Homo sapiens: one gene and its partners. The protein of the gene in region 4 interacts with the protein of the main gene of each other region in a pairwise test. Each region holds a gene or a part of one and is shown on either strand. Other genes may lie near its edges. The genes, in order: ZNF774, USP10, PATZ1, JPH3, TTC19, ZBTB25 and WWP2.

Region 1 (4,320 bases), on a different chromosome or scaffold from region 4:
GCGCCACCATGCCTGACCACTGCTCTCCTTTAATTTGAGACTTAGATATTTGGAGAGGGCCCAGGTCTGAGGAGTTTCTGGTATGTTGGCATCTTAGAGCTCCAGACCTCTGTAAGATTAATTGTTGCCTCCTTGGGAGAAAAACAATTACTTCCTTATGCATTTTATGGTTTGCAAATGTCTTTGCTATTTATTGTCCTTTTAATATCTCATCATAACTTTTTGACTTATGTATTACTATCCCCCTTTTCCAGCCTGGGTTGGACTCTCACCTCTGCCACTTAACTTCTGAGACTTCTGAGGTCTTTGTGGAAAAGGAGGTAATTTTTTCTGTCACTTAAAAACAGGCTGGGGGCAGTGGCTCACGCCTGTAATCCCAGCACTTTGGTAGGCTGAGGTGGGCGGATCATAAGGTCAGGAGTTCGAGACCAGCCTGGCCAACATGATGAAACCCTGTCTCTACTAAAAATAAAAAAATTAGCTGGGTGTGATAGCGGGCGCCTGTAATCCCAGCTACTTTGGAGGTTGAGGCAGGAGAATTGCTTGAACCTGGGAGGTGGAGGTTGCAGTGAGCTGAGACCACGCCATTGCACTCCAGCCTGGGCAATAGAGCAAGACTCTGTCTCAAAAAAAAAAAAAAAAAAAAAAACAAGGCTGGGCGCGGTGGCTCATGCCTGTAATCCCAGCACTTTGGGAGGCCAAGGCAGGGAGATCACAAGGTCAGGAGATCGAGACCATCCTGGCTAACATGGTGAAACCCCGTCTTACTAAAAATACAAAAAATTAGCCAGGCATGGTGGTGGGCACCTGTAGTCCCAGCTACTCGGGAGGCTGAGGCAGGAGAACAGCGTGAACTGGGAGGCGGAGCTTGCAGTGAGCCAAGATCATGCCACTGCACTCCATCCTGGGCGACAGAGCAAGACTCCATCTCAAAAAAAAAAAAATAAATAAAAAAAACCAAAAACACCTCCAATGCTCTTTCTCAAATATCATGGCTACCCTTCCTCCTGCTTTACTTCTTTCTTTCTTTTTTTTTTTTTGTGGCAGAGTCTCGCTGTGTCGCCCAGGCTGGAGTGCCATGGCATGATCTCGGCTCACTGCAACCTCTGCCTCCTAGGTTCAAGCGATTCCTGGATAATTTTTTGTATTTTTAGTAGAGATGGGTTATCTCCATGTGGTCAGGCTGGTCTCAAACTACTGACCTCAAGTGATCCGCTCACTTCGGCCTCCCAAAGTGCTGGGATTATAGGAGTGGGCCCAGCTCTAATTTTTGTATTTTTAGTGGAGTCGAGGTTTCACCATGTTGGCCAGGCTGGTCTTGAACTCCTGACCTCAAGTGATCCGCTGGCCTTGGCCTCCCAAAGTGCTGAGATTAGAGGTGTGAGCCACTGCGCCTGGCCTACTTCATCTATTATACAAGTAATGTATACTCATTCAATAAAAAGTCAAGCAAAATGAAAACAAACATCATCCCTAATCCCACCAATGAAGAGTTACTATCCTACCAGCATTTTTCTAAGCATATATACAATTTTAAAAGAAGCACAAAAGAATAATATTGGGATTATGCTGTATATTCAGCTGTACATTCTTTCTTCCATGTTGTATTGTGAGTATATCTTTCTTTACATCACTTAAAATAACCACCTAGTATTTTGTTTTATGGAATACAATATTATTTTGTTGATGAAGTCAAACATTAGATTGAACCATATATCTGACCTTTTTTTAACCTATAAAAATAGCAATTGCCTGAGCTACTTGGGAGGCTGAGGCAGGAGGATCCCTTCAGCACAGGAGTTCGAGGCTGCAGTGAGCTATATAATTATTCCTTTGTTGTGGGACATTTAGGTCATTTCTAAACTTTCACCAGGTTGTGATAAACATCTTTTAGCTCGTTTTTTAAAAAGTATTTTTTATTGAAGTATAATTTTATCATTTTCTTAGAATTCTCAGAATTAGAATTGGTGGGTCAAAGAACAGATACATTTCTAAGGTATTTAATACTTTGCAAAATGCCTTCCAAGAAGATTGAATCAATTGATTTATTCCCACAAACATTATATGAAAGTGCGCATTTCTTTATATTCTACCTTTCACAGTGGGTATTATAATTTAAAGAGTCTGGGCCTGGGTGTGGCAGCTCATGTCTATAATCCCAGCATTTTGGGAGGCTGAGGCAGGAGGACCACTTGAGCTCTGGAGTTCCAGACCAGCCTGGGCAACATAATGAGACCCTGTCTCTACAAAAAGTTACATTAACCAGGTGTAGGGGCTTGTGCCTCTGGTCCCAGCTACTTGGGAGGCTGAGGTGAGAGAATCGCTTGAGCCAGGAGCTCGAGGATGCAGTTAACTGTGATTGTACCAGTGCTCTCCAGCCTGGGTGACAGAGCAAGAGCCTGTCTCAAAAACAAACAAACACACACACAAAACACAAAAAAAGAGTCTGGGAAAAATAGCAATAATAGTTAACATTTATTGAAGTTTTTTTTGGAGATGGAGTCTCAATGTGTTGCCCAGGCTGGAATGCAGTGGTGCAATCTCAGCTCACTGCAACGTCCGCCTCCCAGGCTCAAGCAATTCCCATGCCTCAGCCTCCCAAGTAGCTGGGATTACAGGTGTGCACCACCACACGTGGCTAATTTTTGTATTTTTAGTAGAGACAGGATTTCTCCATGTTGGACAGGCTGCTCTTAAACTCCTGGCCTCACAAGTGATCCAACTGCCTTGGTCTCCCAAAGTGCTGGGATTACAGGTGTGAGCTACTGCACCTGGCCAATGGATCTTATTCTTATCCCAATTTTTTTTTTTTTTTTTGAGATGGAGTCTCTCTCTGTCGTCCAGGCTGGAGTGCAGTGGTGTGACCTCGATTCACCATAACCTCTGCCTCCTGGGTTCAAGCGATTCTCCTGCCTCAGCCTCCCGAGTAACTGGGACTACAGGCCTGTGCCACCATGCCCGGCTAATTTTTAGTAGAGACGGGGTTTCACTATGTTGGCCAGGCTGGTCTCAAACTCCTGACCTCGTAATCCGCCTGCCTCGGCCTCCCAAAGTTCTGGGATTATAGGTGTGAGCCACTGAGCCTGGCCTCTTATCCCTATTTTATTGATGAAGACATTGAGACACAGAGTTTAAGTAACTTTCTTAAGGCCACACAGCTTGTAAGAGGCAGGATGATGACTCAGACCCAGGCAGTGTGACTCTTGAGTTTGCACTCATTACCTCTACACTATATTGCCTCAGTGTATCATTGTTATAATGGAATTTCTTTGATTATAGTGAGGTTAAACATTTTTCGTATATTTACAGGCTACTTAACAACTGTTTGTCTTTTTCTCATGGCTTTTTTGACTGCTGCCATTCTGGGAAAATTTTAAAGCCCAACATTATAGTTAACTTCCTTCATTGTTTCTAAGGGTGAGGTCATGGAGGCTTGGTTTCTGATAAAATCCTCTCCATATTTAGCTTTAGCCTTGTACCTTCAGAAATGGTTATTGTATTTACTTCAGAGTTTCTGTCACCTGAGTCTGGTTTTTTTTCTTTATGGGAGGAAAAGGGCTTTTTTTTCTTAACATTTTGGGGAAATCACCGTGTTTTATCACTGTACCATGGCTGCACTTTTTTAATGACACCAAATACACGTTAGAGCTCCCCAGGTGTTCTTCCATACCTAGGCAGGGAGTAGGGCTTGGATTTTGCTCAGGCCTTGTGTGATTGGCTCAGACTCACATCCTATGTTTACATTCCTGTGTAGAATTTCCAGGCCTAGTGTAATCTCCCAGCCGGAGCAGAAAGAAGAGCCATGGGTCCTACCACTCCAAAACTTTGAGGCGAGGAAGATCCCGAGGGAAAGCCACACAGGTGAGATGTGAGTGCTCCCCAGTGGAAGGAAATCTAGCATTTCAGCCTTGTTTAGATGAAGAATTTGGAATGCTGCCTTAGAATTTTGTTCTTACTAGCAGACATTTTTTTTTTTTTTTTTTTTTTGAGACGGAGTCTCGCTCTGTCGCCCAGGCCGGACTGCGGACTGCAGTGGCGCAATCTCGGCTCACTGCAAGCTCCGCTTCCCGGGTTCACGCCATTCTCCTGCCTCAGCCTCCCGAGTAGCTGGGACTACAGGCGCCCGCCACCGCGCCCGGCTAATTTTTTGTATTTTTAGTAGAGACGGGGTTTCACCTTGTTAGCCAGGATGGTCTCGATCTCCTGACCTCATGATCCACCCGCCTCGGCCTCCCAAAGTGCTGGGATTACAGGCGTGAGCCACCGCGCCCGGCCACTAGCAGACATTTAAATTTGACTTAATGGTCAGTAGTTGACTAA
Region 2 (4,320 bases), 2.8 Mb from region 4:
AGTCCTCCCTGTGATTGGCTGCTTTTAGACTCCTGCTGATTGGTGCGTTTTAAGAACCGATTGGTGCATTTTACAAACCTCTTGCTAGCTACAGAGTGCTGGTTGGTGCGTTTTACAATCCTAGCTACAAAGTGCTGATTGGTGCATTTTACCATCCTCTTAGAGGACAGAAAAGTTCTCCAAGTCCCCACTTGACCCAGGAAGTCCAGCTGGCTTCACCTCTCAATATGAGTTATAATTCAGCCAAGCAAATCACAATAGAATTACAAAGGGTAAGTAGGTTAGACGGACAACACTTGTACAGAAAGTTTAGGAAGCTCTGAACCCCAGATGGCACCAGGCTACAATCAGAAATACCAGATGGTAAGAGCAAGAACTTGAGAGAAAGGCTCAGACCACGTTAAAACCCCTTCTCTGTAGATCTCAGGACACCACAATCATCCACACAGGGCCAGAAGCCGGGGCACGGGCACCCTTGCACGTGACATCCCTCTCTCCATGTCTTCCGTCTCAGAAGGCTTCCTTCCCACTACTGAGGGTGGCGTCTGGAGGCACCGCTCAGCCGCCCCAGTGGCACTCAACTGAAGAGCATTTAGCCTTGACCTACAGCAACTATTTTGGTGATACTGAAAACGGTGGGCTATAGAAACAAGGGATGAGGAGGGGAAGGGGAGAAAACCTCCTCCTTTCTGCCAATCGAAGAGTCAAAAACTTCGTGTACCCAAATCACTAATCCATTTGAAAATACTAAACAAGCATAACCTGAGTGGTGGTTCAGCTTCCACAAACACGTCGAGCTGATCGAAGGGCAGATTTTAATTCTGCAGGCAAACTCATGCCCCCATGAATTTCAGTTACCCGAAAAGGCATTCGCATTCAAAGAAACACGCACACACCTTTAAACCAACTTTGTGATTTTTATTGATGGGCGACAACTTTATACTCCTAGATATCACTAAACTGTGTACAATTAGGGACGCAGCATTAGAGAAGAGCAGACAGCAGAATTAAACAGAGCAGACTGAAGGAGAGATCTTCATTATTTGCCCATTTTTCATTATGTGTACACAGAAGCATGAATGCAATTTGAAATCTTTTAATGGCAATAAAGTTACAATCACCCATCTATGTAGACTAACATTTTAACTCCAAATATTTGATCTGCAATGTGTACGTAAGCAGTTTCTCTCAGTACAATTATTAAAATTTTTCCTGTTAGGAACCAGCAACTTATTTTTTATGTTTATTTTTCTTTTGAAGTAAGAACTAGTTCTTCTTTGATAACTGGCTCATTTTTATCATTTATCAAAAACTAAAGGGTAGGGAAGAAAAGTGTGATGGATTAAAAAATTTCTTTTTTAAGGAAAGATAAAATTCATTTTCACAAATTTACAAGTGTTGTTGCTGGTGCAGGATTTATTCTACTAAGCAATGAGACTGGGGATCAAATCCACTTTCTTATCTCAGGAATCAGCATTATTTCAGAAATATGGGTTTTTGTGTATTTTCTAAAATCAAGCAACAGTCTGTTTCAACCAAATGATTTTGATTTGGAAGTTAGAGTCAACAGAAGCTGTGTTGTGCACGAACCCCAAGGCATCTCCTTTTCATTCTAGCCCATTTTTGCAAAGGGAGAAAGAGTTTCTCTCTAAAGAGCCACTAAAGAGAGGCGGGAAGTGAGTGTGAGGTGGTGTCCTACGAAGCGGGCACTGGGCGCACACACAGCGCACACAGGGTTTACAGCAGGTCCACTCGGCGGTAATACAGGAGGTAGGCTGTGCGTTCAGCAGTTGGTTTCACCACCTGGTACTGGTTGATCACCTTGACTGTCTGGTCATCGATGCGCAGCCAGCCATTCAGACCGATCTGGAAGACGTCTGTAGTGTAATGGCCGCCCGTCGCACTGTTGCCGTGATGGTAGACCACTGGAAGAGAGCCCAGCAGGCAGCAGAGTGAGAACAGCACTGCACACGAATCATTACAGGTCTCCGCCGACTTCCCTCCAGGGATGCATCCTATGTGTAAAACCCCTCTCCAAAGCAGGTGGGACAGAGAGATGTCATCACACAAACCAATGCTATTTCAACTCAAACACGCAAGCAATCCATAATAAAAACTTTTCTATAACTGCAAGGTAAGGGTAAGTCAGATAGGTACATGTGTGCATGTACGCATATTAACCACATATTTAAAATGTCCCACGCCTCACACAGACACTCCTACACAGCCATCAGCTGTACAGGCCTACAGACCTGGCTCATGCCCTTGGATGTGGCTGACTCTACTTCTAGACTGTCCTGAAGAGATTATCTGAATCTTGGACAGAGATTATGATGTCATTTATAACAGTGAAAAAACGGAAAACCTCAATAGCCACTAGAAGAAATGACTGATGAGTAAATTATATTAAAATAACACAATTTATTTTTTCGTGGAATAGATTAAGAATGGTGATGCGGGAATACGCTTATGGTATATTAAATGAGAAAACAAGGTCCTTAGGCCTTCTGTGGCCCATCTATCCTAAAGACACGGGACACAATCTCCCGGTGCCGGCCCACATGGCAGGAGGGACCCTGGGACTGCTAACCACGGTTGCTTGAGCGTGGAGCTGTGGTGGGGCACTGCGGAGATGGTGCTGGTAGTTACGCATTTGCCTTTAAAAAAAATTACCCATTTTTCTATGTTTTAACAGAACAAAACACACACACACACACACACACACACAGTTATTTACTTAAAAAAAAAATCCTATAACCAAGAAGCCTTAGTCAAAGGCCTAAAACAAAAAATCTGTAGAAGATGTCATGAAAACATTAAGACAGCCACAGAACACATCCTCCACTTCTATGGAGCAGAGGGGCACAGGTCTGCCTGGCCAGCAGCAGACACCAGCCTCGGGAAGGCGGCTGTCCGGCAGCATTCCGCGGGGAATGACAGGGCAGCCTGCTAAGCTGCGCCCACCATCAGTGGCACAAAAGAAAAGGAACCAGGAGAGATGCAAGACTTGGCTGGTAGGGAATTTCAGCACTAAAACAAGACCAAACATCACCAGGTTCTAGTCGCAGTTGTCACGTGGAGGGGCTAAATGACAGCAGGAGGCCTCAGTCCTCTCTGGGCCAGGGACCTTGGCTGGCTAGAGGACAGTGCTTATGACTGAGGCCACCAGTCAGACTCCTGGGCTCTGCACAAAGAAATCCTCTGTGCAGGGACCCCGGAGGAGACTGAACAGCATAGGGACAGCAAGACTGTGGGGCCCGTACTTCGGAGAGCCAGGGACACAGCCAATCCAAGGGCATAGCTTCATCCTGTGCTGCACAAGTCACAGCCATCTTGTGAAAGGGCAGGAAGCACCCATGACAGCAGCATGTCCCCTGGATCCCAAGTTCACTTTGAGACTTCTGTCCTAGATCTTCACCTCACAGACCTAACTGACTGGGCTAAGAGTTTTGCTTCAAAGCGACCATCAGTAGAATCTGCAGGGCCTGGGGGTTTTACTAACTTGTCTTTCCCACAAGACATCTCCATTCTAAAATGTCAAGGGGGACTGCATGTCACCATTCTAGTTTCATAAGCAGCAGCCCAGTTAACTACCCTGGGCTGAGCCGTGTGTCACTCACACCTGCAAGCCCCCCTGACAGGAGCGCTGAGAACCGCCTGAAAAGCTTGTGCGCGAGATTGCTTCTCCCAGGCCCCACAATCACAGCAGTTCTTAAAAAGTGTTCCTTTGCTCACTCTACAGGTAATTCTAACCAGTCCGGTGACCTCATTTCCAAGATCAGAATAGGCTTCCAGCCTGGCCAAAAGGGCGAAACCTCGTCTCTATTCAAAATACAAAAATTAGCTGGATGTGGTGGTGCACAGCTGTAATCCCAGCTACTCGGGGGGCTGAGGCACAAGAATCACTTGAACCTGGGAGGCAGAGGTTGCAGTGAATGGAGACTGTGCCACTGCACTCCAGCCTGGGCGACAGAGCAAAACTCTATCTCAAAAAAATAATGGGTTAGGGGATGAGGATTCAGGAGGGCAGGGGAGAGCAACCCAGGCCCAGGTCCCGGGGCGAGGCAGGTTGCAGAGTCGGGGAGGGGTGTGTGTGCTCACACTGGGGCCCTGACCAGGAGAGGAGCAATCCCTAGCCCCTGCCCCTGCCCAGTGATGTCCCCCGCAAGAGCCTCCAGGGGAAGAGGTGCAGGGAGAAGGCGGAGAAACTGCTGGCCACCCACTGGGACCTGGGTGCCACACTCCAAGGAGCCAGGCAGGATAATGGCTGGCTGCAGAGTCTGAGGACTCAGACCTTCCATTCCAGACAGGGCTGGAGAC
Region 3 (4,320 bases), on a different chromosome or scaffold from region 4:
TCCTTTGGCAGGTTCCACATCAATGCAGGGGTTGGGGACTGCTTTCTCCTTGTCCAAACCCTGAAGGGGCCATTCCCAACTGCACTGTGTTGGAGTGGGCCTACATAGCTTGATGTGAGTCCAGGGGAACAGCAGGTTCCCTGCATCCATCCACTTGTGTGCTTACCTCTGACTGGGGAGAAGGCTTCCTCTACCTTTCAAGCAATGATGTTTGCATTCAAATGTCTCTGTCAAAGGCGGATTCCTGATAATCTGTTCCTCTTCACCATACCAGCACATAGGCATATATACAAAGATCCTGCTACAGAAACTTTAAAGGAAGAAAATCATGGTGATCAGCCAGGGCCTTCTCCCTTTTCCACTGTTCAACTCAACTGATTTCCTCAACTCAAAAATGTGGGAACAAGCTTTTCTAGCCATAATACTCCCTCCACTGCAAATGATCTTCCTGTACAAATAGTATCATACACATCCTGATATGTCTGTATGACAAAGCCAGAGTCATCTGTCTCTTCAACTTGCATCTGACTCACGTGTGAGGCTGCAGGAGTCAGGCTGCCTTTCCTCTTTGCCATTCTTCACAGCCAGGAGTCATTTTTGTGGCAAAAATTGAAAAAGACAGATCTATAGGTAGATACTTAAGTCAACTATTTAAGAATTGTTGGGATTGAAGGATCTGAGGGCACCTGGAAGTTCACCTGATTCAATCTTAACTGTTCTGACATTCAGCCTTTGTTTGAACACATGCAGAGATAAGAACATTCGTTTATTCGTGCAACCCCTCCTGTAGGTACAGGCTTGGTGGCAGCAGGGCAAAGGAGGACACAGAGCTCTCTGCATTTTGATTCCAATGTCTCAATGTTTTTGGTGCTCAGAAAGAACTTTATCCTCTTCCTTTTTTTTTTTTTTTTTTTTTGTCTCTTCCTATTTCTGCCCAAGGAATGAGTCCAGGAGTAGAATCCTGCTCCTTCTCTTCTGATAAAAACTGCAATTGTTTTCTCTTCTTTCTGAGTACCCAGCATGGGTTGGACCAGCACCTTCTTTAGTCTTCTTGCAGGAAAGGGACTTCCCGCTCTGGCTCTGGAACCCAGAGATGTTTGGCCTGTGATCCAGACCCAGTCTTGGCTTTTCTGAGAAAAAGTAGACTCTGGTTTACTCTTCTGGATTCTCCATTCCGGTCATGTAGCTTATGGCTGTTGCCCAAGTTCTCTTTACTAGCCCTTGGAAAATAAATCCTGATGTACAATAGTTGTTGGCTTTGCCACATCAGCTGCTTCCTTACTGGGCCAACTTTCCCACTGTCCCTGCTGCTCTCAGTTTTTCTCTCCTCCTGAGCTGGGCTTCAAGGGCTGTAGCCCTGGGTCTCCTGTCCAGTTTCTGCCCTACTCCACCATCTGGTCTGGGCTTTCTGAGTTTTATCATGAGCACCCTTCTCCACTCAGCAGTTTTCAACCTCTGGTCTCTGACCCCAGTTCTCAGACTGGGAACTTCCATATTGAAAACTTGACAAAATGCCTGCTAACAGCTTGTTACAGCAGGTTTTGAGTTATCCGGGGGAGCTGTCAGGAAGCCAGGTTAGGATGAAGCAAGACAAGAAACGACATTATTTCTAGGGCTGGGGAAGCCCCAGTCAAGACAGTCAGCCACAGCCTGATAACTCTCCCTGCATGCGCAAGCCCACCGCTTGCAACCTGGAGGAAGCTCCTGTCAGCAATGGGCTCTAATGACATGTCAGAAAACAGAACAGACAGCTTAAGAGACCTTCACTACTACTTCCCTGCTTTCACAGCAGGTGTCCTGGTGGTACAAACCCCAGGTATGAAGCTGCAAGGAGGGACCCAGTTCCAGGACACCAAGAACACCCAGCTACTCAGCAATCTCCTTCCACCGTGGACCTCGGCACATGAACACAGCACAGGCACCCAACGATTCCGCCAAGGCCTGCAGGAGTGTTGTGCCTGGTCCAACCCAGAGTGTCAACAAGCATGTCTTTCCCAACATTGTTACAAAGTGCAAGGATAGAGTCTCCCAAGTGTGCGGCTCCTTTCACCTACCTTGTCTCCTGGGATCCTCATAACAGCCCTGTGAGGTGGGAAAGGGGGCTATTCTTAACCCCATTTGAGAGATGAAGAAACTCAAGCTTAGAGAGGGAATGGGAGAACTCGAGGCCACCTAGTGAGAGGCTGGGACTAAACCCTGGGTCTCTTGACTCCTGGTTCAGTGCTGCACCCACTAAGCAGGCTTTCGGAAGCATTGGGACAAGCAAGAATGCCCCAGGAGATAAGGACATCCCAGTGCTCCCCACTGGCCAAAGCAAAGCACACCATGCAGAAGCATCCTCACGTTCACAGATAGCTGCTCCAACCTCCTTTAGCACAGACACAGTGCAAGCCTCCACTGATGCTGTGCTTGCAAAACACAAACATCTAGCACTTCCAACAGCCAACTAGACCCGGCAGAACCTTGGGGACAGGCTTGACTTCACCCAACACAACACCACTGCCACAGAGTTAGACACTACTTAGGCCCACCTTGTCCTCAAGCATGCTGCCCTGCTCAGAGCACCTTCCACTTTCCTCTCTCAAGGCCACAATCTACCTGAGTTTGGGCTCTCTTCTGACTACTTGTGCTACAAAGTGTCTGCTCCTTGTTTATCTCCAGACTCAACCTCCTTCCCTGGCTGCTGAATTTCATATGCCAGTGAATCAACCAGCAAAAGCTCTCAAGCCGGACCAACCTCTTTTTCTCTCACTTTGGGACCTACTAACTCCCCCACCAACCTCAGTGGTTCAGTGGTGTCTGCAAAATGCATCCATCCTGCCATCTGAGTAGCAGGTGAGAGTTATGGGCCCAAGCTTGGGAAGAACCTCTCTCCTTCTGTTTTGACCTGCTGGTCTCCTGGGACTTCCCATTCTAAGCACCCCAAGCTTCTTGGGAAGGAAGAGGTAGCAAATAGCTAGTTGGGTGATGAAGGTGTTTATCATTCAGTGGGAAGTAGGGGGTGGCTGTGCAAAGAGTGGAGTCTGAGGCAGGGTGATTGAGACACCCCTAGGCCTCCCATACACGCTCAGGCCCATCCTCTGGAAGTGAGGAAACAGTGGGCAGATTACCTCGGTTACAGATACTGCAGAAGTTGCTGGGCCCCTCGCTGTGCTTCTTCAGGTGGTCTGCCATGTATGCTGCCCGCAAGTACTTCCCACACACCTGGCAGGGCACCTTGTCTTCATGACAGGCCAGGTGGGAGCGCAGACGGTCTCGGGTGGCAAAAGAAGCATTGCAGGTCTGAAGGCAGAAAAGAAAATGGGATGATGTGAAACCCAGCACCCCACACCTGACTCCCCACCAAGTGCACCATGAAGCAAAGGCAATTTCTGGCCATCACATGACCTCCCTTTATAAAGACAGCTTTAGAGTTTGGCTCAGGCTCCCTACCCAGAATGCCAAGAGGCTGCTCTTATTTCCCATGGTACCTCCTTACGGGACACTTGAGTGGGAATCACTGGTACTAACTAAATGACTACTGGAAATGTACCCAGGACATGGCAAGCTAAGCTCTATACCCCTCTACACAATGAAGAGTTACACATTTGCTCATCCTTAGACATTAAGAATTGACTTTAGGTGCATTAGCTATAATGCACAGAATTACATTTACATGAATTTACAGATGAGTTATTGGCATATAAACCAGCCTTCCTGTTCTGTATCCCTGGGTTTCCCCTAGTTTTATACAAAGAATTATATTTGTTCATTTTATTCAAAAGTGACATTAGTCTTGGCCAGGGAAATGGAAAGGAAAGGCAGGACAAAGTGCAGAGATAATTATTCGTAATATTTTCACGAGTTTGAATTGAAAAAGCAGCCCATTAAATGATAGTGGCAATTCTGACGACATGAGAATTAGCAGACAGCAAGGGCCAGAGGCTTCAAAAGTGTCTGTGGGCCGGGTGCGGTGGCTCATGCTTGTAATCCCAGCGCTTTGGGAGGCCGAGATGGGTGGATCACCTGAGGTCAGGAGTTCAAGACCAGCCTGGCCAACATGGTGAAACCCCATCTCTATTAAAAATATAAAAAATTAGCCGGGTGTGGTGGCAGACTCCCGTAATCCCAGCTACTTGGGAGGCTGAGGCAGGAGAATCACTTGAACCTGGGAGGTAGAGGTTGCAGTGAGCCAAGATCGTGTCACTGCACTCCAGCCTGGGCAACAAGTCAAGACTTCCTCTCAAAAAAAAAAAAAAAAAAAAAAATCCGGGCGCGGTGGCTCACACCTGTAATCCCAGCACTTTGGGAGGCTGAGGCGGGCGGATCACGAAGTCAGGA
Region 4 (4,320 bases):
CGATTATGTTGTGACTTTTTAGGGAAGAAAGGATCTGATTCTGTGGCTGGCCGTGTAGTTTAGGATCTGACGGGTTAAGGGGAGAGATGTTTTTCTCTATAGGTCCACTTCCCTGGGCTCTCCACTCCAGCCAGACAGCTCCCTCAGCATCCTGCTCCCCTAAGCCCTTCCCCTCCTTGTGGTCCTGCCTGATCATGTCCATTCTACAGATGAGGCCAGTAAGGCCCGGGCTTTGTGATTCAGGAGTCCCAGCCTTTGGCTGCAGGGATCCCCGATCTGTCTGGGACCAAACCCCCCTCGTTCTTGCATCACATTGCCGGAAGAAGCCCAGATTGTCAACATCCTCTCAAGGGGTATGCGGTTCTTAGCTCTCCCATAAGCAAAGCCAGGCAGGGATGCAGATGGGGAGCTTCATGGCCGGCTCTCCCTTTTGGTTGGCAACATGGCATGACAGGAAATAGAATTGACCCTTCTGGTCTTGAGGACTCGGGCCTGGACATCTGGGCCACTTTTCTGGAGGGCTCCCAGCTTCCTGTTGGGAAGGGGGTGATTATGGCACTGAGTGTCCCCAGGCAGCCCATGGAAGGAGCCTGCAGGGTGTGGGGATCGCCAGAATGGGGCAGAGACCTCCATGCCTCCTTCCCAGTCAACTGGTGGGTGGTGACAGCCATGTCGCAGTGAGGAAGGAGTTAATGGCCCCAGCTCCACTCTGACTTTTCCTTTGCACAAGAAGTGGGGGAATATTGGGCAGCCATCAGCGAAGCTCTGGAACCTCAGCCCAGCTCTGGGCGCTGACTTGGGGAAATGGCGATTTTCATGAATGATGCACCAGCGGCCAGCGTATTCCACATGTAGCTGGAATTGGTGTGGAATTTCAGCTGGGGACACCTGTGCCAACTCCTCCTCCTCCAGGTGTGTCCTCCCCTTAGGGTACTCCCTGATTGAGCTGAGTAGCTCCTACCGTCTGCATGGTGAGGCCTGGGGGTGTGGGGTACAGGCACACTTGCTTCCAGTCACAACCCCAGCTTGCATCCTGGGCTTGAATCCCTGCCCTACATGCCCTGTTTTGTGACCCTGGTTGGATTACTTAACCTCTCTGAGCTTGTTTCTTCATCTTTACAAAAGGTTGATAACAATACCTGTAAGGTGGGTGAGGATTAATTGAGAATGGTGTGCGTGGCTATGCCAGGAATATAGTAAGCATACATTATTATTTACCGTTAGTTTTTTCATTACAGTTTCCAGGCAATGCATGTCACTTACAATGATCATTATTAGAACCAACATCTGGACAGGAGACTGGTGATCATGTAAATGATGTTAAATAGCAACATTAGATACTTACTGTCTGCCAAGCATGTGGCAAGTGTTAAATGAATTACAGCCCTTAATTCTTACACCTCTAGAGGGTGATTTTCTTGTTATTCTCATTTTCCACACTGGGAAGTGGAGGCTCCCAGTGGGTGTGGGTTGGGAGGAACCAGCAGGCGTCACACTCAGGACAGCCATCCCAGAGCCTGGGCCTTTGCTAGGTACGTCGCTCTCTAAATGCCCCTGTGCAAAAACACCTCCTGTTCTTTCCTCTCGTTTATATCTCTCGTTCTCTTGTGCGTACAGTGGCCCAGAATTGCAGGTGAATGCCCATGCACAGACGGGCAAACCCATACACTGCCCAGGACCCCTGGCCCCCTGAGGCCCACCATGCATGCCGGTGCTGCACCGCACAGGTATAGATCTTTCCTTCGGGTGCTGTGTACACAGAACCCCTCGAATCGAAAGTTACCCCCTCCAATAAGCCCTCCTACACCCTGAAAGATATGAGTCATCTCACGCCCAAGCCTCTCCCCCTCATACTCAGGTCCCGTTCACCGGCCCAGATTCCTCAACCCACACAAATCACACACACCCACAGTCGGAATTCAGATCCCCCCAGGCGCCTGCGCACACACACGCGCACAAAACACCTGCCACCCGGAGACATTTTCCACCCCGTCCCCCAGAACGCAGCCACTGCGCCCTTGCGGCCTTGCTTGCTCTCCACTGGCCAAGGACTCTGAATCTCCACCAGGCCTGTAAACGGGGAGCTCAGATGACAGAGGCAGTGGTGTGCTTCGTTTCCATTTTAAACACACGTTTATGCTGTTAGTGCCCTTTTAGGGAGAAAAATCCCTCATCTCAACAAAATAAACTACCATGGGGCGTATGCTTTGTGCTTGGCTATGACTATGACTATGCAACAAGTAATTTCTTTTTCAAATGAGTGCCCAGGTTAGAAGGAATCAGGTTCATTGGTGCGGAGATTATGCCAACAGAAACTCATTTCAGAAACAAGAAGCAAGCCCTGAGCAGTTGGAGACGAAAGCGTTTTCTCCGAGATTCTCTTTCCGCTACTTCGGGGGGCGGGTGGTGAAAGGCTCCGTAAGGTGAAAAGAGAAAGGAAGAAGCAAACAGCTATTTTTTTGTTGCCAGTTATAGCTGAGAAACAAATGTGGCTGAAGGGCACCCCTACCCACGTTGGCCGTGAGGCCGTTTGATGGGCTTTGTGTGAGGAATCCTGAGATGAGCTGGCCGGGGAGTGAGGACCGGCACCCGCCTACAGCAGCGATCTGGAGTAGTGAGTGAGCAGCCCCAGCTGACACAGAGAAGGAGAGAGAGAACTCTGACCCCTTCTCTTCTGAGGACACCCAGCCGGAGAGAGCAAGAAGGGGTGGAGTGTGGGGGTGGGGGCAGGAGCCTCTGCTGTTCCTTTCCAAGACTTTTTCTTCCTGTTTTCCCCAAGCCTCCACAACTCTAAATATGACGAGCTCTCAACTGTGAGCTAATAATGTTGAATGTAACGCCCTTTGTGTCCTTAGATGACAAAAAGACTTGTGAGTACTAGAGGAGAGGGTGATGTTGGTGTGAATTTTCCACATTGGTCCGTGTCTCCGTGGACTGGCCGCTTCCCCCGCTGGTAGCTTCATGGCTGTGAGAGGCCATGCGGTGGATGGAGCCACCGCTGCACTGGGGTCCTGGCTCGAACTTGAGTAAGGTGCTGTCTTCCAAGTCTGGAGAGGAGAGGAGGAGAGAAGAGAGGCAGTCCCTTCAGCACCTTGGAGAGCGCTCCCGGCTGCCTGCCTGGGTTGGGTGGACGGCTGGACTCACTTTCGCTCTAGGCATCCTCTTCAAGCCAAACCATCTCTCCTTGCCAGTGACCGCCTGGTCCCGGACCCTCCAGCACACTCAACCACCAGAAGTGTGCCTATGCCTGTGCCAGATGTGGGGGCCACGCCTGCGATCCCAACACTTTGGGAGGCCGAGATGGGAGGTTCACTTGAGCCCAGGAGTTTGAGACCAGCCTGGGCAACATTGTGAGACCCCCGTCTCTACAAAAAATACAAAAATTAGCCAGGTGTGGTGCTGCACGCCTGTGGTCCCACCACTCAGGAGGCTGAGGTGAGAGGATCGCTTGAGCCCCGGAGGTCAAGGCTGCAGTGAGCCAAGATGGTGCCACTGCACTCCAGCCTGCTGACAGAGCCAGACCCCATCTCAAAAGAAAAAGAAGAAGTGTGCCTGGTCCTACTCAGTCGGTGCATGGATTCCATGCTCCAGGAAGGGCTGCCACTTGGCATGCCTGCCTATGTTTTCACCCCTACCCTGTCAGTCCTTCCTGAAGAAGTGAGTGTCTTCTGAGGTAACATCCTCTGCTGGTCAACTGGGAGAGCAGCTCCCAGCTTGTGGAGGTGGGTTTGGGGGTGAGACTTTATTTTTTTGTTTTTATTTATTTATTTATCTGTTTTGAGATGGAGTCTCACCCTGTAGCCCAAGGTGGAGTGCAGTGGAGTGATCTTGGCTCATTGCAACCTCTGCCTCCTGGGCTCAAGTCATTCTCATGCCTCAGCCTCCCGAGTAGCTGGGATTACAGGCATACACCACCACACCTGGCTAATGTTTTGGGTTTTAGTAGAGACAGTGTTTTGCCATGTTGGCCAGGCTGGTCTTGAACTGAACTCAGGCGATCTGCGTGCCTCGGCCTCCCAAAGTGTTGGGATTACAGGTGTGAGCCACTGTGCCCGGCCTAGGGTGAGACTTTAGTAAGATGTATAGAAGTTGCTCTGAAGTCTAAGGTGTATTCCTGCCATAGGATATGTGTGTTCACTTCTCTTGGAGCATAACAGGGGTCATAGGTGCACAGCCGAAGGCAGGCAGAGGAATGATTTGTCTGTACCAGTCAGTGAAACTGTTTCACCACCATTCTCTTTACATCTGCCTCAATGGGTGAGTCCTCTAGACCAATGGTCCCCAACCTTTTTGGCACCAGGGACCTGTTTCATGGAAGAC
Region 5 (4,320 bases), on a different chromosome or scaffold from region 4:
GTTAGTGGGAGATGATGAATACTGCTGGCTATGTCAGTTATTAAAATTAGGGCAGCATTCCTAGCTTTTTGTGTCCTAAGTTATATTAAATGGATGACTTAAAAAAACTGCTTTGAGAAATGGCAGATTTGACACTACTTAGACTTTAAGCAAAGTTCCCTCTTCCCATTTTACACTTCCTTTACTGATAATGTTTAAACTGAGCTGGAAAAATGAAGATAAAAAGAATTTGTGAAAAGGTAAATGGGCCGGGCGCAGTGGCTCACGCCTGTAATCCCACCACTTTGGGAGGCCGAGGTGGGTGGATCACTTAAGGTCAGGAGTTCCAGACCAGCCTGGCCAACATGGTGAAACTCTGTCTTTACCAAAAATACAAAAATTAGCTGGGCATAGTGGCGGGCACCTGTAATCCCAGCTATTCGAGAGGCTAAGGCAGGAGAATCGCTTGAACCCCGGAGGTGGAGGTTGCTCTGAGCCGAGGTCACGCCATTGCACTCCAGCCTGGGCAACAAGAGCGAAACTCCATCTCAACAGAAGGAAGAAAAAAAAAAGAAGAAAAGGTAAATGGCTGATTATTGATTTTGCTTTACAGACAGGAATTTGCTGTTGCTGGCTATGAATTCTGCATTTCAACTCTAGAGGAAAAAATTGAAAGAGAAAAGGAATTAGCAGAAGACATTATGTCAGGTAGGAAACCCATTATCTGGGCATTGCCTTTTCTCCACAAAAGGCTTTACTTTACACTTTTGAGAAATGGAAAGAGATCTAAATTGGGAAGAGGGAAAGTTACCTATTTTGCAAAATAAGTGTCTGTCTTTAAGGTATCAGCAGAAGTTTTGGAATAAGATGTTTTATTTAAAATATTTGACTGCTGTTTTGGTGGTGGTTTTTTTTTTAACCCCCTTGGTAACATGGTCATAATTTATTTGTTAACTTTTAGTTACATATAACTTAAGGAAAATTGGGGAGCAGAAGGAGAAGGTGTTTCTCGTATCTCTTAGTTCAGCTACCAATCAAAATGCTTATTACGTTTTAGCCCTAGATATACAGCAAATTAAGAAAGAAGAGAAAAAAAGCTCATGTTTTTACAATCCATCCTCACTCATTCTGGAGGCTAGGAATAGAACTGGATGAGCAGGAAGCTCTCTAGCTCTCCACCATTTTGGGTTTCTTAATTTGGGTTGAAGTATTGAGAATTTTCAGATTTGACATTTATTCAATACCTACTCTATACCAAGAGCTACCGAGATGGTAGGGATACAGCAGTCAACTCTTCTGTACCTAGTGGTCTTCTAACTCTCTCTTGAACATAGAGTAGTCCCCCGTTATCCATGGGGAATATGTTCCAAGACCCCCAGCAGATGCCTGAAACGACTTCTAATACACTGTGTTTTTTTCTTATATATATGTACCTATGATAAAGTTTAATTTATAAGTTAGGCACAGTAAGAGATTAACAACAATAACTTTTAATAGAACAATTATAACTATATACTGTTAACAGTGTCACAGACAGGAGATTCATTCTTATTGTAGATCTTATCAACCTCAGCATACAGTTTTTTGTTTTTTGTTTTTTGTTTTCTTACTAAGTTGAGAACTTTCACCTTTTCATTAAAAGGAAGCACTTTATGACTTCTCTTTGTCATATTCAAATTGCCAGTATCACCACTCTCACACTTTGGGGCCATTATGTAAAATATGGATTGCTTGAGCACAAGTACTGCAACATTGTGGGTTGATCTGATAACTGAGACTGCTGCTAAGTGACTGAGGCCAGCTGCCGTATACAACTTGGGTACACTGGACAAAGATGATTCATGTCCTGGGCAGGATGGAGTGTGACAGTGTAAGATTTCTTCATGCCACCCAGAATGGCATGCAATTTAAAAACTTACGGATTATTTCTTGAATTTTTCATTTAATATTTTTCGGACTCTGGTTGACTGCAGATAACTGAAACCCCAGAAAATGAAACTGTGGAGTAGGAGGGATCACTGTACACCAATTTTTTTGTTTTCATCACTCCACTGAAGCTACCTTTATCAAAGTCACCAAATCCAATGGTTACTTCTCAATCCTTAACTTACTCATCAGCAGCTTTAACTTAGGGGATCACTGTCTCCTACTGAAAATACTTTCACTTGGCTTCTGGGATGCCTCACTGGTCTCTCTAGTGAGGTGAATAGACTTCCCTACCTCTTAATGTTGGCACGCCTTAGGGCTGTTTTCAGCCCTATTCTCTTTTCTCTCTGCCCCAACACCTAGGAGATATCTTTTAGTTCCATAGTTTTAAATATTAGATTTATACCTTCAGCCCCAACTTGCCCCCAAATGGCAGACTTATAATTATGATTGCCCACCCGACATCTTGACTTGAAGTCTAATGGTCATCTCATACTTAACATGTCCAAAATAGGTCTCAGTTTTGCCGCTCACAACTTGTTTCGTCACCAGTCAGCCCCAGATTTGTAAATGGCACACTACTCATTTAGTTGCTTTGGCCAAGAACCTAAGAATTGTCCATGATTTCTTCCTCATTCCTCATATCTAATCCATCAGCAAGTTATACTGGATCAGCCATCAAAATATATCCATACTGACCATGTCTCATCCCATTACCCTACTGCTTTGGTCCAGGCCATCACTGTTTCAAGACCTCAGTACCTTTGTATCACCTTTAGAATAAATTTAGAATCCCTGCATGGACCTGTAAGGCGCTTATGACCTGGGCCCACCCACCTCTTCCATGCCATCTGCTGCTCTCCCCTTGCTCGTTCCAGTCTCACCACACTGGTCTTATTCTGGCACATTCCAAGCTTAGTGCCACCTCAAGGCCTCTTTGCTTGATATTCCCCCTACCTAGACTGTTCTCTCTTACCTTTCTCTGGCCAACTCCCGTACTTCACTCAGGTCTCTGCTCAAATAGCACTTCCTCAGAGTGCTCCCTTCACTAAAACTATCATCTCTTCCCACCTTACTATTGCTCTACTCCTCTTTCCTTTACTTTTCTTCATCACACTTAAAAGTAGAGGTGTGTGTGTTGTGTGCTTGTGTTTCTCCACTAAAAGTATGTTTTTGTTTAAAAATTTTTAGTCTTTGTCTTCCATATCAAAGAAGGATAGAGACTTCATCCATTATACTCAGTGCTAAATCCTCGGTGCCTAGAACAGTGCCTGGCACATAATAGAGGCTCAATAATTACTGAATGAAAGAACAAAAGACCCAAGAAAGACCAGCAAATAAATCCAGTTTCAGTGCAGTGTGGAAGTGCTTTGAGGAAATCCACAAGAGGTGTAAAAACAAGTCTAGCTGTCAAGTAAGTCACTTCTGAACTATTTACACCTTTGCTGTCTTTCATTTATAGTGTTGACTATGGTTTCTTAGGAGTGTAAAGCTATATTTTCTGATTCAAAAAATAATACCAGTAAACACTGAAGAAAGTTTAGAAAAGCACTAAGTAAAAATCATCTGTAATCATACTATTAAGAAAGAGCTACTGTTTTATTTATTACTACGGCTTTTCGGGTTACATTTTAAGAAATAAATTTGGGATGATACTGTATATCCTACTTTGTAACCTGAGTTTTAACAATTTAGTAACATATTATGAAAACACTTTTTTTTTCCAGGCAAAGGAATTCTTGTTAGATAGAGCAAGCTAATTTCTATTATAAATATTATTTTTACATTTTACTAGTTGCACAGTATAGAAAATGTGTTACATGATTCTTCATCTTATTTTTTCTAGAAAAGGAATTCCTACCTATTCAGTTTTGCACAAAGCAAATCCATTATCAAATTTACGTGCTTTTTATTGACACAACTATCTCTATTCTAGGATAACATTACTTAATTACATAAAATTACATTACTTAATTACATAAAACCTTGCTCTAGGATAATTATTTTGTTACCTATGTTGTAGACATATATGTACTTACTGAGGAAATGCCCATAAAAAATTAAGTGAAAACTTTGGTTACAAAACAGTATAGTTAGTATGTAGACTAAAAATAGGAATGGAACAAAGGCTGAATGATAGATATCAAAATACAGGCAGTGATTCTCTTTGGTTGGTAGGTTTATAGGGAATTTATATTTTATTTGTGTTTCTCTGAGTATTCTATAATTTTGTACAAATTTATATTTTTCTTTTTAATTTCCAATGTTATCTGTTAGTATAAAAAGTCAAATAATATTAATAGTACAAAGCTTAATTTAAGAGAGCATTTTCTTGGCTATCTCACCCACCCCATCTATTTTTTTTATTTTTTAATTTTTAATTTTTTTTTTTTTTTTTTTTTTTTGAGACAGAGT
Region 6 (4,320 bases), on a different chromosome or scaffold from region 4:
ATCTCATTTTCATTTTTCTAATGAGGAAACAAGATTAGAAACATTGTGTTCACATAGATGGAAAAGGACAGGTCTGTCTTCATGTGTCACTCATACCAAGCTATCTTCTTACCAGATGAAAAAGGGTCATATTTTATGGTTCAGCAGAGTTTATATCAGTTGTCATAATGGAGGAATTTAGTGTTAGCCGTGTTTGCAGTGAAAGTAATAGGATTGAAAACTTGAATAATTTCATTTAAATTTAGATCTCCTTGTTACTCTGTAGGTTTGTGTGAACTGTAGACAATTTTGTATTAATAAAAAATAATGCGTATATACATACACACCTATCTACATTTATCTTGTCCTTTTTTTCAGAACCACAATGGACACTGCCAGCCATAGCCTTGTTCTTCTCCAGCAGCTGAACATGCAGCGAGAATTTGGTTTTCTGTGTGATTGCACAGTTGCAATTGGAGATGTTTACTTCAAAGCCCACAGAGCAGTGCTTGCTGCTTTTTCTAACTATTTCAAGATGATATTTATTCACCAAACAAGGTAAGGATGTGTTTTTGTAAATAAGAATTTTTAATATTGTGATTTATATAAGCTTTATTATAGTATCATTTTGGAAATTCTTTGTTACGGAGTCACACTAAGAAGTAAAATTATAATTTTTTTTTTTTTTTTTTTTTTTTTTTTTTTTTTTTGGCGACAGAGTCTTGCTCTGTCACCCAGGCTGGAGTGCAATGGTTCAGTGTCGGCTCACTGCAACCTCTGCCTCCCAGGTACAAGCGATTCTCCTGCCTCAGCCTCCCGAGTACCTGGGATTACAGGCGCCTGCCACCACGCCCGGTTAATTTTTGTATTTTTAGTAGAGGCAGGGTTTCACCATGTTGGCCAGGCTGATCTCAAACTCCTGACCTCAGGTGATCCGCCTGCCTCAGCCTCCCAAAGTGCTGGGATTACAGGCATGAGCCACCATGCCTGGCCAAATTATAATAATTTTTTATACATTAGTAATTAAACTCAGTGTGTAGGATCCATAATGGAAAATAAGAATGAAAATAAGAATAGCTAAAATTGGCTGGGCGCCATGGCTCACGCCTGTAATCCCAGCACTTTGGGAGGCCAAGGTGGGCGGATCACAAGGTCAGGAGTTCGAGACCAGCCTGGCCAATATGGTGAAACCCCGTCTCTACTAAAAATACAAAAATTAGCCAGGCATGGTGGTGGGCGCCTGTAGTCCCAGCTACTCGGGAGGCTGAGGGAGGAGAATTGCGTGTACCTATGAGGTGAAGGTTGCAGTGAGCCGAGATCGCGCCACTGCATTCCAGCCTGGGTGACAGAGCGAGACTCTGTCTCAAAAAAAAAAAAAGAAAAAGGAAAGAATAGCTAAAATTTATTGAAGGCTTATCCCATACCCAAGCACTAAGTATTTGCCCTATAATGTAAATTCTACTGCTGTCCCTATTTCAGGAAAAAGAAAACTGAGACTGAGTTAAGTAACATGCCCATGCAGGATTATACAGCTAATAAGTTAGATGCAGATTTGTCTGAAGCTATGTCTATGCTTTTAGTCACTAAGCTGTTAATTTTTGTTTCATATAACACTTTTGTTTTTTTTATTTTTTATTTTTATTTTTTTTGAGACGGAGTCTAGCTCTGTCACCCAGGCTGGAGTGCAGTGGTGCCCAGGCTGAAGTGCAGTGGCATGATCTCAGCTCACTGCAACCTCCGCCTCCCAGGTTCAAGCAATTCTCTTGCTTCAGTCTCCCTAGTAGCTAGGACCACAGGTGTGCGCCACCACACCCGGCTAATTTTTTGTAATTTTAGTAGAGACAGGGTTTCACCATGTTGGTTAGGCTCCTCTTGAACTCCTGACCTCAGATGATCCACCTGCCTCGGCCTCCCAAAGTGCTGGAATTACAGGCGTGAGCCACCGCACCCTGCTGATTTCAATAGGTTCTTTCAGAAGTTTTAAGATATCTTTATTGTGGCTATAAACATATAAAATTTGCCATTTTAACCATTTTTAATTATACAATGCAGTGGTGATAATCACATTCGCAATGTTGTACAACCATTACCACTGTCTATTTCCAAAACTTTTTTATCACCCCAAACAGAAACTTTGTACCCATTAAGCAATAACTCCCCATCTCACCCTCTCAACCCCCAGAAACCGCTAATTTACTTTCTATCTCTATGAATTTGCCTATTCTAGATATTTTATATAATACTTGTCCTTTTGTGTCTGGCTTATTTTACTTAGCATGATATTTTCTGGGTTCTCCATGTTGTAGCATGTATCAGAACTTCCTTCTTTTTATGGTTGAATAATATTCCATTGTGTGTGTAAGCCATCTTGTGTTTATCCACTCATCTTTTGGTGAACACTCAGCTTCTTTCTACCTTTTGGCTACTGTAAGTAATGTTGCAGTGAACATTGGCATACAGGTATCTGTTTGAGTCCCTGTTTTTAGTTCTTTTGATCGTTTACTTGATAGACTGTTAAATTCCTTAAGAGCAGGTACCTATTTTATTCATCAGTTTTCTACCGCTGGCATCTAGTATAGTGCATATCACTTAGGAGTCACTTGATTAATGTTGAACTATTCAGAATGTATGTCTGTGTTTCCTAACTTTAGGCAGTAGATTGAATACATGAAGACTTTTTGCTAGGCCATAAAGTTGGTATAAAATGAAAGTTTAAGCCTTTGTTGCCATGTTTTATTAAGGCAGATTGCTAGGTTCGAACTTCTTAGGAAGAAATTGCTTTAGTCTCAGACTATACTGTTAACTGAAAGGCCAGCTAGGTTGTGTTTCATTTCTTGTGGGTCTGTTTTTGTTTTTAACAGTGAATGCATAAAAATACAACCAACTGACATCCAACCTGACATATTCAGCTATTTGTTGCACATTATGTACACGGGGAAAGGGCCAAAACAGATTGTGGATCATAGTCGTTTGGAGGAAGGGATTCGATTTCTTCACGCCGACTACCTTTCTCACATTGCAACTGAAATGAATCAAGTGTTCTCACCAGAGACTGTGCAGTCCTCAAATTTATATGGCATTCAGATCTCAACAACCCAAAAAACAGTTGTCAAACAAGGACTGGAGGTCAAAGAAGCTCCTTCCAGTAACAGTGGAAACAGAGCTGCTGTCCAGGGTGACCACCCCCAGTTGCAGTTGTCTCTTGCTATTGGTCTGGATGATGGCACTGCAGACCAGCAGAGGGCCTGTCCTGCCACCCAGGCCCTGGAGGAGCACCAGAAGCCCCCAGTTTCCATCAAGCAGGAGAGATGTGACCCAGAATCTGTGATCTCCCAGAGCCACCCCTCACCCTCATCAGAGGTGACAGGCCCCACTTTTACTGAAAACAGTGTCAAAATACACTTATGCCATTACTGTGGGGAACGTTTTGATTCCCGTAGTAACCTAAGGCAACATCTCCATACACATGTGTCTGGATCCCTGCCATTCGGTGTCCCTGCTTCCATTCTGGAAAGTAATGACCTTGGTGAAGTGCATCCCCTTAATGAAAACAGCGAGGCCCTTGAATGCCGCAGGCTCAGCTCCTTCATTGTTAAGGAGAATGAACAGCAGCCAGACCACACCAACCGGGGTACCACAGAGCCTTTGCAGATCAGTCAAGTATCTTTGATCTCCAAAGACACAGAGCCAGTAGAATTAAACTGTAATTTTTCTTTTTCAAGGAAAAGAAAAATGAGCTGTACCATCTGTGGTCATAAATTCCCTCGAAAGAGCCAATTGTTGGAACACATGTATACACACAAAGGTAAATCTTACAGATATAACCGATGCCAAAGGTTTGGTAATGCATTGGCCCAGAGATTTCAGCCATACTGTGACAGCTGGTCTGATGTCTCCCTGAAAAGTTCTCGCTTGTCACAAGAACACTTAGACTTGCCTTGTGCCTTAGAGTCAGAGCTCACACAAGAAAATGTGGATACTATCCTAGTTGAGTAGCAGCTTCTCTTTCAGAATTTTTATACCAATTCTGAAAAAGAAAATTTGCGTGGCATTTTTAATTCATAAATTATTTTCCTCCTCAAGTTTCATTGACTTTTTTTCTTCACAGCTTATCCATGGTTTTAAGGTTGTATATATTAGATCTTCTCATAAGACATATTAATATGTGGCTATTAAAATGTAACATTCAATTACTACTGTGAACTTTTCACAAACGAAATAACAATTTAGAAATCAGAAATCAATGTAGAAATATGGAAACCTTAAATAGTTATTTATAGAATTCTAAGTTTTTCCAGTTATAGAATCAGTAAAATCAAATTGAATATAAAGTAAATGAAA
Region 7 (4,320 bases), about 18 Mb from region 4:
TGGATGATGGGACAGGTTAGATTCTAACCAAAATCTTTTTAGAAGGTTGCAGTTCCCTGTTTTTCACCCCACCGCAGTTTATAGCAAATATTCAGTGATTTAAATCATTACTACTAATAATAACTATTAGGAAAATACCAGCCAGGCATGGTGGCTCACACCTATAATCCCAGCACTTTAGGAGGCCGAGGTGGGTAGATCACCTGAAGTCAGGAGTTTAAGACCAGCCTGGCCAACATGGAGAAACCCCGTCTCTACTAAAAATACAAAAAATTAGCTAGGCGTGGTGGCAGACACCTGTAATCCCAGCTACTTGGGAGCCTGAGGCAGGAGAATCGCTTGAACCCAGGAGGCGGAGGTTGCAGTGAGCCGAGATTGCATCACTGCCCTCTAGCCTGGGCAACAAGAGCGAAACTCCTTCTCAAAAATAATTAAATAAATAAAAAATAACAAGTACCAAGACATGGCAGTCCTGACCTAGGGCCCGTCCTCTTCCTCAAGTCACCCATGCCTTTTGCTTCTTGTTTTGTCTTCAGATCTGCTTTCCAGTCAGCCTCTTTTATTCTTAGCCTGTAATTCCACGGGGCTTCCAATAGTGTACCTCCCTGCTCCCTCCCGTTTTCTCTTTTTCCGTGCTTAGTCTTTGTAAGGATGTCATTTGGCAAAGTTGATTCTGTTTGATTGTTTTTCAATATGGGCCTTTGGAGAATGGAAGGTAGTAACTCAATGCTGGACAGAGGAAGGAGGCCAAGAAAGAAGCATTAGTGTTGGAGTAGCATGAGCCTGTGAAGAACAGGAGAATCTTTTGGACAGAGCTTTTCCTTGCATATCTTTCAAGAAATGAGTGCAGGCTGGGCGCAGTGGCTCACGCCTGTAATCCCAGCACTTTGGGAGGCCAAGGCGGGTGGATCATGAGGTCAGGAGATCGAGACCATCCTGGCTAACGTGATGAAACCCATCTCTACTAAAAATACAAAAAACTAGTCAGGCGTGGTGACAGGCACCTGTAATCCCCGCTACTCGGAAGGCTGAGGCAAGAGAATTGCTTGAACCCGGGAGGTGGAGGTTTGCAGTGAGCCGAGATTGCACCACTCACTCCAGCCTGGGTGACAGAGCAAGACTCCATCTCAAAAAAAAAAAAAAAAAAAAAATAGAAGTGGGTGCAAGGTTTATCTCTAGTTAGAAATAAGCTCTGCCTGTTTCTACAGCTGGTTAATTAGAAATAAAATCTTTGTGAACCCATGGATTATATTGAAAAAAATTTTTTAAAACAAGAAATAAAATATTGATACTGGTGTGTAATTTCTGCTTTTCCCTGGCTCCTTCTACACAGGTCTTTTCATCTCAAGATCGGTGTTCACTGGTTTCTTGACTCAGAGCTGGGTCAAGAATTTTAGGAATTGAGGTGCTTGTAATGCCAGAGCCAAGAATTTCAGTATCGAGAAGTGGTTTTGTTTGTAGTTGATATTTGAAGAGCTCTTACTGTGTGTCCTCTGCTTTACCTGAATTCATGTAGTCAGTACAGTAATCTTATAAAGTAAGTACTATTATTGGGTTCATTTCACAGATGAGAAAACTGAGATTTAGAGAGGGTAGGTATGATTTTGTGAAATATATATTTAGTCTTCCTCCCATTTCCTGGCCTATAACTCCTAAAATCATTGAAATCTCCCAAGTGATCAGTGTCTTTTTTTTTTTTTTTTTTGAGATAGAATCTCGCTGTGTCGCCCAGGCTAGAGTGCAATGGCATAATCTCGGCTCGCTGCAGCCTCTAAGCGATTCCCGTGCCTCAGCCTCCCAAGTAGCTGGGGCTACAGGCACATGCCGTCATACCCAGCTAATTTTTGTATTTTTAGTAGAGATGGGATTTCGCCGTGTTGGCCAGGCTGGTCTCGAACTCCTGAGCTCAGGTGATCTGTCTGCCTTGGCCTCCCAAAGTGCTGAGATTACAGGTGTGAGCCACCACACCTGGTCAGTGTCTTTTTGTGTGCTAATAATTGACCTTTGGTTGGGGACTCCTGGATAGTCTCAGGATTTGGGGGCCAGTGGCCAGGGAAACCAGCCTTGTAGTTAGAGGGTTGGCACTTTTAGTCCCACACCCAGCCTCTGGGACAGGGAGAGGGACTGAAAGTTGACTTGATCTGCAGTGGCAGTGACTTAATTGATCATGCCTGCGTAATGAAGCTTCCATAAAAACCCTGAAGGACTGGGTTTGGGGAGCTTCTGGATGGCTGCACACGTGGAGGTTCTTGGAGGATGGCACCCTCAGAGAGGGCTTGGAGGCTCTGTGCCCCTTCTCACATGCCTCGCCCTACGTCTCTTCATTTGTATCCTTCATAATATCCTTTATAATAAATCAGTAAATGCAAATAAAGTGTTTCCTTGAGTCCTGTGAGTTGCTCTAGCAAATTTATCAATCCTAAGAACCTCGATTTATAGCCGGTTGGTCAGAAGCACGGGTAAAACAACCTGGAGCTTGCAATTGATGTCGCAAGTCAGGGGCAGTCTTGGGGAACTAAACCTGTGGGATCTGATGCTATTTCCAGGTGGATAGTGTAGGAACTGAATTAGAGGACACCCAGCTGGTGTCTGCCAGCTGCAGAATTGATTGCTTACTTGGTATGTGGGGCTCCCACACATCTGGTGTCAGAAGTATTCTGTGGGGCTGGGCGTGGTGGCTCACACCTGTAATCCCAGCACTTTGGGAGGCAGAGGTAGGAGGATCGCTTGAGCCCAGGAGTTTGAGATCAACCCGGGCAGCATAGTGAAATCCTGTCTCTATTAAAAAAAAAAAAAAAAGGTAGTATTCTGTGTTGTGAGAGTATAGCAGGAAGAAACTGAGTTTGCTTTTTCCTCTCCATCCTCTCAGTAAGTAACTTGCTCTGGATCACTCAAAGGCAAATGAGTGGTTCAGCTTATTAGCCTCCAGAAGATTGACAGGTCTGAAAGGTTGTTGCTGAGGTAGGGTGATAAAAGTGATCAGGTGCTTCAGGTATTGCAGGAGCTGCCACTAGCTTAATCTGATGTGTAGTTGTTTTCTCCTGTCAAAAGTTCTGTAATAATTATTATTTTTCTTTTTGAGATGAAATCTTGCTGTGTCTCCCAGGCTGGAGTGCAGTGTGCTATCTTGGCTCACTGCAACCTCCGCCTCCCGGGTTCAAGCTATTCTCTTGCCTCAGCTCCTGAGTAGCTGGGATTACAGGTGCCTGCCACCATGCCCGGCTAATTTTTGTATTTTTAGTAGAGACGGGGTTTCCCCATGTTGGCCAGGCTGGTCTCGAAATCCTGACCTCAAGTGATCCACCCGCCTGGGCCTCCTAAAGTGCTGGGATTATAGGCATGAGGCACAGAGCCTGAAGGACTGTAGCTTTGTAGTAAGTTTTAAAATTGGAAAGTGTTAGTCATCCAACTTTGTTCTTTTTCAAGATTGTTTTGGCGATTCTGGGTTCCTTGCATTTCCTTACTTTAGGATCAGCTTGTCAATTGCTGAAAAACAATTCTCTTTTTCTCTCTGTTTGTTTTTATATCTGGCTTTTTGGCCAAGGACTTCTGCAATGTTTGTTGACATTTAGGTGTGAAGTACACATGTATGCTAGGACCCAAGTGCGGGAAGGTGAGTTGGGTGGGGGAAATTGACCTTTTCAGTTTATAATGTAGACTTTCACTGTCTCGCTGGGTCAATATGGTGCCTTATCCCTATTGTCAACTATGCCTGAAGTCTTGAGTTTGGTTTCACCTGTTGAGAAACTAAAAGTCTTTTTAGTCTTTTTTTTTTTTTTTTTTTTTTTTTTGAGACAGAGTCTTGCTCTTGTTGCCCAGGCTGGAGTGTAATGGTGTGATCTTAGCTCACCATGACCTGTCTCCCAGGTTCAAGCTATTCTCCTGCCTCGGCCTATCCCAAGTAGCTGGGATTACAGGCACGCACCACTACACCTGGCTAATTTTGTATTTTTAGTAAAGACAGGGTTTCATCATGTTGGTCAGGCTGGTCTCGAACTCCCGAACTTGGGTGATCCGCCTGCCTCGGCCTCCCAAAGTGCTGGACTAAAAGTCTGCTTGGGATTAGGAAGGGGCAACTGCTTGGTTGAACTGGGTGGGGAGGGGACTCTGGGACTCTAATCATTCCCAAGATAGGCTTTTGCCAGTCCTCCTGTTTTTAGCCCCACTTCTGCCCTTACTTTCGGAGGTACCTGTACTACTGATGCAGGGCACGTGAGCCCCAAAACTGGGGGTTAGTCTGGGTAGGTTCTTGGCTTTGCCCTGGAAAGAATTCAAGGGCAAGCTGGTAGTAGAAGAAAACAGCTTTATTGAGGCAGCAGA

The links.
Region 1: the proteins of JPH3 (region 4) and ZNF774 interact in binary tests that used the Homo sapiens proteins (3 or more experiments, as listed by UniProt).
Region 2: the proteins of JPH3 (region 4) and USP10 interact in binary tests that used the Homo sapiens proteins (3 or more experiments, as listed by UniProt).
Region 3: the proteins of JPH3 (region 4) and PATZ1 interact in binary tests that used the Homo sapiens proteins (3 or more experiments, as listed by UniProt).
Region 5: the proteins of JPH3 (region 4) and TTC19 interact in binary tests that used the Homo sapiens proteins (3 or more experiments, as listed by UniProt).
Region 6: the proteins of JPH3 (region 4) and ZBTB25 interact in binary tests that used the Homo sapiens proteins (3 or more experiments, as listed by UniProt).
Region 7: the proteins of JPH3 (region 4) and WWP2 interact in binary tests that used the Homo sapiens proteins (3 or more experiments, as listed by UniProt).

What each region holds. Positions count from the first base shown.
Region 1 is NC_000015.10:90,355,097-90,359,416, forward strand, and holds part of ZNF774 (zinc finger protein 774), read left to right. Parts: intron 1-3,754; coding exon 3,755-3,861; intron 3,862-4,320.
Region 2 is NC_000016.10:84,776,500-84,780,819, reverse strand, and holds the end of USP10 (ubiquitin carboxyl-terminal hydrolase 10), read right to left. Parts: intron 1,926-4,320; coding exon 1,738-1,925; 3' UTR 898-1,737; downstream 1-897. UniProt on the Homo sapiens protein: Hydrolase that can remove conjugated ubiquitin from target proteins such as p53/TP53, RPS2/us5, RPS3/us3, RPS10/eS10, BECN1, SNX3 and CFTR.
Region 3 is NC_000022.11:31,332,582-31,336,901, forward strand, and holds part of PATZ1 (POZ-, AT hook-, and zinc finger-containing protein 1 isoform long C), read right to left. Parts: intron 3,283-4,320; coding exon 3,111-3,282; intron 2,836-3,110; exon of another isoform or gene 2,768-2,835; intron 1-2,767. UniProt on the Homo sapiens protein: Transcriptional regulator that plays a role in many biological processes such as embryogenesis, senescence, T-cell development or neurogenesis. Interacts with the TP53 protein to control genes that are important in proliferation and in the DNA-damage response.
Region 4 is NC_000016.10:87,605,506-87,609,825, forward strand, and holds part of JPH3 (junctophilin-3), read left to right. Parts: intron 1-4,320. UniProt on the Homo sapiens protein: Junctophilins contribute to the formation of junctional membrane complexes (JMCs) which link the plasma membrane with the endoplasmic or sarcoplasmic reticulum in excitable cells.
Region 5 is NC_000017.11:16,005,882-16,010,201, forward strand, and holds part of TTC19 (tetratricopeptide repeat protein 19, mitochondrial isoform 1 precursor), read left to right. Parts: intron 1-592; coding exon 593-687; intron 688-3,096; coding exon of another isoform or gene 3,097-3,125; exon of another isoform or gene 3,126-3,183; intron 3,184-4,320. UniProt on the Homo sapiens protein: Required for the preservation of the structural and functional integrity of mitochondrial respiratory complex III by allowing the physiological turnover of the Rieske protein UQCRFS1.
Region 6 is NC_000014.9:64,486,578-64,490,897, reverse strand, and holds part of ZBTB25 (zinc finger and BTB domain-containing protein 25), read left to right. Parts: intron 1-357; coding exon of another isoform or gene 358-364; coding exon 365-537; intron 538-2,840; coding exon 2,841-3,975; 3' UTR 3,976-4,320. UniProt on the Homo sapiens protein: May be involved in transcriptional regulation.
Region 7 is NC_000016.10:69,768,188-69,772,507, forward strand, and holds part of WWP2 (NEDD4-like E3 ubiquitin-protein ligase WWP2), read left to right. Parts: intron 1-4,320. UniProt on the Homo sapiens protein: E3 ubiquitin-protein ligase which accepts ubiquitin from an E2 ubiquitin-conjugating enzyme in the form of a thioester and then directly transfers the ubiquitin to targeted substrates.